Linked DNA regions of Homo sapiens: region 1 is linked to region 2. The links come from fine-mapping of genetic effects on gene expression. A gene starts in region 2. The other region holds a variant in brackets. All regions are shown on one strand. Distances are from middle to middle. Region 1 overlaps HTT (huntingtin). Region 2 holds the start of HTT (huntingtin).

Region 1 (4,382 bases), 110 kb before region 2:
TGCAGCCCCTGGCAACCACCATTCTACTTTCTATATCTATGAATTAACTACTCCAGGTCCCTCATGTAAGTGGAATCACATAGTATTTGTCCTTTTGTGACTGGCTTATTTCATTTAGCATAATGTCCTTAAGGGTCACCCATGTTGTAGCATGTGTCAGAATGTCCTTTTTTTAAGGCTGAATAATATTCCACTGTAAATATACACCAGATTTTGCTTATCCATTCATCCATCGAGGGACACTTCAGTTGGTTCCACATTTTAGCTATCGTGAATAATGCTGCTATGAATGCTGGCATGCAAATATCTTTTCACCACCCTGCTTTCCATTCTTTTGGGTATATACCCAAGAGTGGAACTGCTGGGTCACATGGTATCAGGTGTACTCTTACAGCAACAAATATTTTCAACTGGCACACTGGGCAAGGCAGAGTTTCTACCGGGCAGCACAGCTCCTACACTCTGAGAGTGTATAGTGCAGAATGGGGAACGAGACACTCCAGGAAGACTAATGTGATTCACCTACCAGACTTGAAGATGTGGATCAGACACATTAGCAGTGTGCCTAGTTCCTGGCAATAGAAAGTATGTTGCTGCTCACTCATTTCCACCTTCAGCTGTTTTGTAACAATGTCTTCTAAAAGAATACCAACCAGTTGTAATAGAAACCTTCCAAGAAACAAAAAAGATGACAGTGAATTAGGTGACTACTATAAAGCACTTACGCCAAGTATACATGAAAAGATATATGGTAAATATAAAGTAAAAATATAGGTAGAGTACATTAACCGCTAAAGTGAAATGCAGAGCGCCGTCGCCGTGGACACAGTCACTTGGTCTCTCTGTGTATCACCTTCCTCACTGAGGATGAAATGGCAGGTAGCATTTTTTTAAGCTTTGTGAACTGTACACCATTACACAAATACAAGCTGATCATCTGTCACAGGAATTTAATGTATCATCAATTTTAGCCAGCTGCTTCAATGCGACACAGGGAAAGCCATGGGCTGCCTGCTGAACCTGCAAACCAAAAGGTGCCCAGCAGGCTTACTGGGCTTATCTCCTTCGACAACACAGGGCATCTCCACTGATGACAAACCAAGTGAAGGCTGCATGAAGTCACAGCCACTTAGCAGAAGCAGCACATTTGCAGAAGCAGCTCTAACTCAGTGAATGCTCAGAATCTAGCAAAGGTGGAGAGGGACCCATCTAGGCAGCAAGCACTTACGAGTGCCTCATCACTGTCCTTGGGGAGCTTCCAAACAATTTATGAGGGAAGACAGGATTTGATACTACACGTATTTATTGGAGGCAGGCTGCCCTGCAGGGAGAAGACTTTTATTACTGACAGCGTGTAAAACTGCCAGCACATGGTGACAATCTGAGACTCACTTTTACTGGCTTCTCTTGGGTTTCAACTTCCCTGACGTCAGCGTGCCCCTACTGCCTGCCCCCAGGACAGCCACCCCACTGCCCTGCCCTGCCTGAGGCGAGCCACTGCTGTAGCATCTCTACTGAGGACAAGAGACAGAACATGACAGAACTTCAAGACAGGTATGAACCAAGAGCCATAGATAATGCAGGACGGATTAGAAAATTACACTGATACAGACTTCTTTACCCAACTCAGAAGTGAAGCAAGACCAGGTATTATTCCAGACTTACTGACTGTGAAACATCACGTGACTTCCCAAAAGGCATGGGTTAGTTATAGGCTCAGATAGAAAGCATACCTTGAAAATGTTTCTTCTGGCAAATTCTTTATTTGTTTCCCTTCACTGTGTTCTTCTAGCGTTGAAGTACTGTCCCCATCTCTTAACCTATTAATTACTGTACAGGAGATTAAATACGGAGAGAAGGAGAGCTCCTGAATACGAGAAAGAACAATATCTTCAGTTGACTGGGAAATCAGAACCCTCAAAATGGCCAGAATTCCCGATATCCACAGTTGAACAGTGCTCACGGACGCCTAAAATAAACATAATACATAAGTCACAGCTGAAGAAAAAAGGAAGATTAAATTTCCCCCAATTGCCAATTTTGTGAAAGAAAATAACTCCTATTTTACTATCCTACCAATAAACCTCTCTATCACTGAGTCCCAAAGTGTGCTCCCAGAAAAGCAGGCATTAGTTTCACCTGGGAATTTGCTAAAAATGCAAACTCTTGGCTTGGTGCGAGAGCCACCTGTAATCCCAACACTTTGGGAGGCCGAGGCGGGCGGATCACAAGGTCAGGAGATCGCGACCATCCTGGCTAACACAGTGAAACCCCGTCTCTACTAAAAATACAAAAAATTAGCCGGGCACAGTGGCACGCACCTGTAGTCCCAGCTACT[C/T]GGGAGGCTGAGGCAGGAAAATTGCTTGAACCCGGGAGGCGGAGGTTGCAGTGAGTCGAGGTAGCGCCACTGTACTCCAGCCTGGGTGACAGAGCAAGGCTCCATCTCCAAAAAAAATAAAAAGGCCGGGTGCGGTGGCTCACGCCTGTAATCCCAGCACTTTGGGAGGCTGAGATGGGCGGGTCACGAGGTCAGGAGATCAAGACCATCCTGGCTAACACGGTGAAACCCCATCTCTACTAAAAATACAAAAAAATTAGCCGGGCGTGGTGGTGGGCGCTTGTAGTCCCAGCAACTCGGGAGGCTGAGGCAGGAGAATGGTGTGAAGCTGGAAGGCAGAGCTTGCAGTGAGCCGAGATCATGACACTGTACTCCAGCCTGGGCGACAGAGTGAGACTCTGTTCCGCACCACCCCCACACCAAAAAAAAAAAAAAAAAAAAAAGCAAACTCTCAAGAAGCCCTACCCAAACTGACTGACTCAGACATTCTGGGGGTGGTCCCAGTAATCAGAGCCTGAACAAGCCGTCCAGATTCATCTGCTGAGCCAGGCGAGAGACTCACCATTGTGTTTGGAGTGACGAACATACTCCGTAAAAGCATGTCTACCGGACGGAGGGAGGAAGGGGCCAAAATCTCAAATAATGTATTTAACACTCCAAGGGCTTCATGAGAGTCAATGTGCATCTGTGGAATTAGACACCACAAACATTTCTACGTAAGCCAAAAGAAACGACAGCTTCCTGTACACCAGCTATGTAACTCAAGGGCAAATCATCATAATCATCTCATCGTCACCTTCCCTCATTTAAAAGCATTTTAAGTTCAGTGGTGAACCAAGCAAACATTTTTACAACAACACTGTATAGCTACATTTTTCCCATAACAGAAATCTTGTCATTTAGATTTTTATTACATAAATAATAAATGCTTTCTGTAAAAGACTCAAATATACAAAAGTGTGAAAAAAAATCAACTAGCACTGCAGCACCCTGACACAATCATTACCAACATTTTGGGGACCAGTCTTCCAAGCGTCCCTTTGTATACACATACATGGGATGGTGTGCACTTTTTTTTTTCTTTTTCTGCACTCCATCCCTCCCACAACAGTTGTAACAAATGCTAAGTGGTGTGTGTATATCCCTTTCTTAATCTGCCCCATGTTCCTATAGCCATATCCTTGCCCCCTCACCCACAGAGGTTTTGTTTTAGTTGTTTTGAAAAATCATAAACGTCTCTGCTCTTCTCACTTAACCCAGTGCAATGGAGAACTCCCAAGGCAACTGGCTGAACTTCCTTTCTTCCTTCCTCCCTCCCCTTCCTCCCTTCCATTTCTTCCATTTATTTCCTTCCTTCCTTCCTCCCTCCCTCTCTCTTCTTTCTCTCTCTCTCTTTCTAACAGAGTCTCACTCTGTGCCCCAGGAGTGCAGTGGCGCACGAATGGGCTCAAGTGATCCTCCCACCTCAGCCTCCTGAGTTAGCCAGGACTACAGGCGCACACCACCACACCCAGCTACTTTTTGTATTTCTAGTAGAGACAGGGTTTCACCATGTTGCCCAGGCTGGTCTCAAACTCCTGAGCTCAAGCAATCTGCCTGCCTTGGCCTCCCAAAGTGCTGGGATTACAGGCATGAGCCACCACACCTGGCCAGAACATTTTTAATCATGCAAAATAGCCCAAGCTAAAATAGTCTAAGCTTATACCACAGTGTGTTCAACCATTACTTATTGATGGTGGGCACTGACTGTTTCCAATTTTTGTTTCTACTGAGTGTGTATACATAGTAAACAACTCTGCAAACAGATGTGGTGTTTTTCAAGGCACAGATGTGAAGCTCACAACACTGGCCACATCTTACAACAAGGGAACAACTGACTTGAGCTCCAGGATTCCTGCATCCTGGACCCTCGCCTGTGCTCACCAACTCTGCCTCCTCCCCAGCAACTCTGGGAGAACCCACAGTGCTCTGTCATCCATGCAGCCAATCCTAACCCATGTCTGTGAACACCACAACGGCGATTTGTGTCTCCTGTGTCATGAAC
Region 2 (4,382 bases):
AATGATCAAGTGTCTGAAGCAGCCCAGCAGAAAGGTCTTCCTTCCCATCAGGAGCCCTGTTTAGTGTTTACACAAGATACATGCAATGTGTGAACTTTTATGACACCTACCTCCTAGAAAAGCACTACAGTAAATTTCTGGATGAGAAATTACTTACTGAAGAGATAAGCCAAATTGTTTTAAAATTTCTCCAAATATCCAAAAAGTTTTTCCATCCTTTAGAATAATTTATTCCTAAATTTTATTCCAACAAATAAGCTAACACTGCTCTCCGAATCATTTTCTAATTAAACTTTGAAGACGAGACAAGGATCATAACAGAAACAAAGAACAAGAAATATTACTAAAAATTAATCAGTCTTAACAGAGATATTCTTACCAAATGCCATCTGGGACACATCCAGATCGGAAATAGAATACTGAGAGGTAAGAGAAAGGCCTGAACTGCACCAGAGTACTTCCTAACTCCTACTGTACACTCGACACACAGACTTCCAGGGAAAGTCCTGGGGTTCCGCTAGATGTTTTAATGGTCTCTCTTTTCCTGTTTCAAAAATTCTCCCCAAGAACAAGCAACAGAAACCCCTAGCTTCCAAAAAGTAACAAGCTGTCAGCAATGAAGCAAACAGAAACCCTTTCACTGGCACATCTGAGATGCCCACGGAGTCTGCGGACCCCCCGTATTCTGGCAAGCCTGACTGGAATACTGGTAAAATGTACACCTCATTCATCCCTCGGCAATTAACCTCCCCATCAGCAACGTGTTGGTTTTATTCCCAACACACATAGGCAAAAAACTTCAATCAACTCTTCCTAATATTTAAGATAATTTCATTAATCACCACGTAAGTTCACCACTTTACTTGGCAACCACAACTCATTCAAACGCCTGCAGACCAACTTAGGCTTAGATGAGCAGATCTCTTAGGTGGTGCTTAAAATCGTGTTACTACCACCGTGATCATGAACTAAATGAAATGTCCTGACAATGTAGGAAGAGCCTCAAATCTCAGGCTGTTTTAAGTGCCACTAGGAAAAGAAATCTCCCATTGGACGCGCCCTCACTCCCCGCCCCCCCCCTGCCCCGCCACTCCCGCCGAGGCGTCCTAAAAGCATTATGTCATCCACTGCCCCCACATCTCTCCAGCTCCAAACCCCGCCTCCTCTCGAAGTGTCCCGCGCCCCCAGCCCTCTTCCCTCTCAGACTAGAAGAGGGAAGTGGCACTGAGCAAATCTCGGCTCCTCCAAGTTCTCTTCACAACGCAGTTAAAAGAACCCCCGCCCTGGTTTCTCGCAAATAAAAAGAAACAAGTTCTCGCCCCAACTCTTCGCATCCTGCGAAGGGCGAGAGGGCTGAGGCCGTGACTCCCCTCGGTGAATTCAGGACAGGCCCCAACAAGGCTCTGCCTCCCCTCGCGAGAGGACAAGGGAAGACCCAAGTGAGGGAGCGGGGCTGAAGTGGGGGAAGGCCTCGCCCCAGGAGGGGGCGGGTGTCCCTCATGGGCTCTGGGTTGCTGGGTCACTCTGTCTCTGCGGGGCCGGGGGTTCGTGTCGCCGGCCCGCAGGCTGCAGGGTTACCGCCATCCCCGCCGTAGCCTGGGACCCGCCGGGACAGGGAGCTGCAGCGGGCCCAAACTCACGGTCGGTGCAGCGGCTCCTCAGCCACAGCCGGGCCGGGTGGCGGCGGGGGCGGCGGCGGGGGCGGCTGCGGCTGAGGCAGCAGCGGCTGTGCCTGCGGCGGCGGCTGAGGAAGCTGAGGAGGCGGCGGCGGCGGCGGCGGCGGTGGCGGCTGTTGCTGCTGCTGCTGCTGCTGCTGCTGCTGCTGCTGCTGCTGCTGCTGCTGCTGCTGCTGGAAGGACTTGAGGGACTCGAAGGCCTTCATCAGCTTTTCCAGGGTCGCCATGGCGGTCTCCCGCCCGGCACGGCAGTCCCCGGAGGCCTCGGGCCGACTCGCGGCGCCGCTCAGCACCGGGGCAATGAATGGGGCTCTGGGCCGCAGGTAAAAGCAGAACCTGAGCGGCCGTCCATCTTGGACCCGTCCCGGCAGCCCCCACGGCGCCTTGCGTCCCAGACGCTGCGCCGGCGGAGGCGGGGCCGCGCCGGCGGAGGCGGGGCCACGCCGGCCAGCATGATTGACAGCCCTAGCCTGCGGACTCTGCCAATGGCTGGCCAGGGAACCAGCCCGCCCCTGCCCCCGCAGGTTCTGCCTCACACAGCAAGGCCGCTGACAGCGCAGCGCCCCACCCGGGCGAAGGCGCGGGGCTCAACGGAGAGGGGACGGGGCGTGGTGAGACTGTAATGGGGTGAGGCGAAGCTGTGTGTGAAGTGTCGCGGCGAGGCGGGACGAGGAAGGGACGGGGCGGGACTGCATGGTAAGGGAGGCGTGGCGATGCGGGGGGCGTGGCGATGCGGGGGGCGTGGTGAGGTAGGGGCGTGGCGAGGCCGGGGCGGGGCACAGCAGGGAGGCCGCCTGAGGGGCGGGGCGAGACGGGGGCGGGGCGGGGCGATGCTGGGGACGGGGACATTAGGCAGGCCGGCTGAGGGGCGGGGCGGCTGAGGGGCGGAGCGGGATAGGGGAGGGGACTGGCCGGTGAGGGGTGGGGAGGCTGGGGGCGGGGCAGGAAGGTGAGAGGTGGGGCGAGGGAGGGGTGGGGCGCGGAGGGGCAGGGCCATGGAGGGGCTCGCCCATGAAGGACGGGGCCATGGACGGGGCGGGGCCGTGGAGGGGGCGCCGAGCGCGGGCGCAGGCCCATGCGGAAAGGATCCCCCGCCGACGCCTGGAGCGGGGCGACAGCCGGCCGTGGACTCTGAGCCGAGGTGGCCTTGGGGTTTGCCCTCCCGCCACACTGGCCCGTGGCCAGAGCCATACTCACCCGGACAGCCCTGCGGGGAGCCAGCTGCGGGGCTCTCTGCACGGGGAGAGGGTGGGCGAGCTCCTGCGCAGAGCGCAGAGAATGCGCGTGGTCGGCACGACCTGAGGACCCCAAGTGTGACCCCCACCCCACCCCCAGTGAGCTGGAGAGGCCCCTGCAGGGCGGTGTCCACAGGCCTGGCGCCCCCCATCGGTCCCAGCGCAGCGCCCCGGAAGGGAGGAGAGGGTCTGGGGCAGGCCTGGGTGGTCAGCGCCTGCTGCCCACAGAGGCACTGTGATTAGTGCAGCGAGAAGCAGCTATGGCCACAAGATGCCGCCCACAGGAATGAGTCCCGACCTGGGGGCGTTTCTTTATGGGAGTGCACCCCTGCTCTGACCTTCCGGCAGGACCCCCAAGGGGCGTCATTCAGCAGCAGCTCAGCAGAGGTCTGTGGGGCACCCCCTCACGCCTGGGACACAGGCCGTGGCGGGCAGGGTCCTGGTCTCCAGAGCCTCCTGCCTTTTGGGTGGTAGAGGGGCAAACGGAGAGGGCAGCTGTCCAGCCTGCCCAGCAGGGAGTAAGGTTGGCCTCAGAGACAACCGCCCAGCCGGGGGGTGATGCAGGCAGAGAGGAGCCCAGTAAAGCCTACTTTAGCCAGGCCACACCTGCAACCCAGAGTCCCCTGCTCTGTGGCCACAAACAGCACCTCCGCCTTGTCTCAGAGCCTGTCCTAAAGGGAAACCCAGCATTGTCCCCAGTGGGGTAGCAGTAGCCTCCCTTTTCTTGAGAAGGACAGCAGAGAAACAGCTGTTAGTTCCCAGTTCTTGGGAGGCTGATGTGGGAGGATCACCTGAACCCAGGAATTTGAGGCTGCAAGTGAGCTAGGATTGCACCACTGCACTCCAGCTTGGGTGATAGAGCGACACTGTCTCTAAAAAAATTAAGTTCCAGCGAGGTGCGGTGGCTCACGCCTGTAATCCCAGCACTTTGGGAGGCCAAGGCAGGCAGATCACCAGAGGTCAGGAGTTCGAGACCAGCCTGGCCAACATGGCGAAACCCTGTCTCTACTAAAAATACAAAAATTAGCCGGGTGTAGTGGTGCATGCCTGTAGTCCCAGCTATTCCGGAGGCTGAGGCAGAATTGCTTGAACCTGGGAGGTGGAGGTTGCAGTGAGCCAAGATCATGCCATTGCACTCCAGCCTGGGTGACAAGAGTGAGACTCTGTCTCAAAAATAAATAAATAAATAAAGTTCCCAGTTCTCTGCTGTTAATAAGGGCCTTTGTCCACTGTGTCAGGCCTCAAGGTTGTTAGTTACCTCAGTGGGCAGACTCATAAGATGGCCCCAGCACCCCTCACCTCCTGGTATTGACACCCTTGTATGACCCCTCCCCGTGAGCTTGGGCTGTACCTGGTGGCCTGCTTCTAACCAATGGGCAAAGGTGATGGAATGTCACCCCATGACTAGGTCGCAAAAGGGTATGACTTCAGTCTCCCTGGCCCTCTCTGTTGCCTTCTTGGCATGGATGCT

The links. PIP is the estimated chance that this variant, and not a neighbour inherited with it, causes the effect. A credible set is the group of variants that fine-mapping cannot tell apart.
Region 1: its variant is the best candidate, but not a certain one, in a credible set for the expression of HTT in whole blood (INTERVAL, PIP 0.52).

The regions. Positions count from the first base shown.
Region 1 is chr4:3,185,238-3,189,619 of GRCh38, reverse strand. It overlaps HTT (huntingtin), which reads right to left. Exons shown (of 67, transcript NM_001388492.1): 38 at 2,901-3,023; 39 at 1,734-1,969; 40 at 527-669. Among named protein-coding and RNA genes, the nearest start is that of MSANTD1, 62 kb to the left of the region's middle. The variant C/T (reference allele first, on the strand shown) is at 2,339.
Region 2 is chr4:3,072,347-3,076,728 of GRCh38, reverse strand. It overlaps HTT (huntingtin), which reads right to left and starts at 2,048. Exons shown (of 67, transcript NM_001388492.1): 1 at 1,641-2,048. The coding sequence starts at 1,903. It also overlaps HTT-AS. RefSeq lists enhancers at 1,153-1,202, 1,213-1,442 and silencers at 1,603-1,672, 1,783-2,222, 2,373-2,992.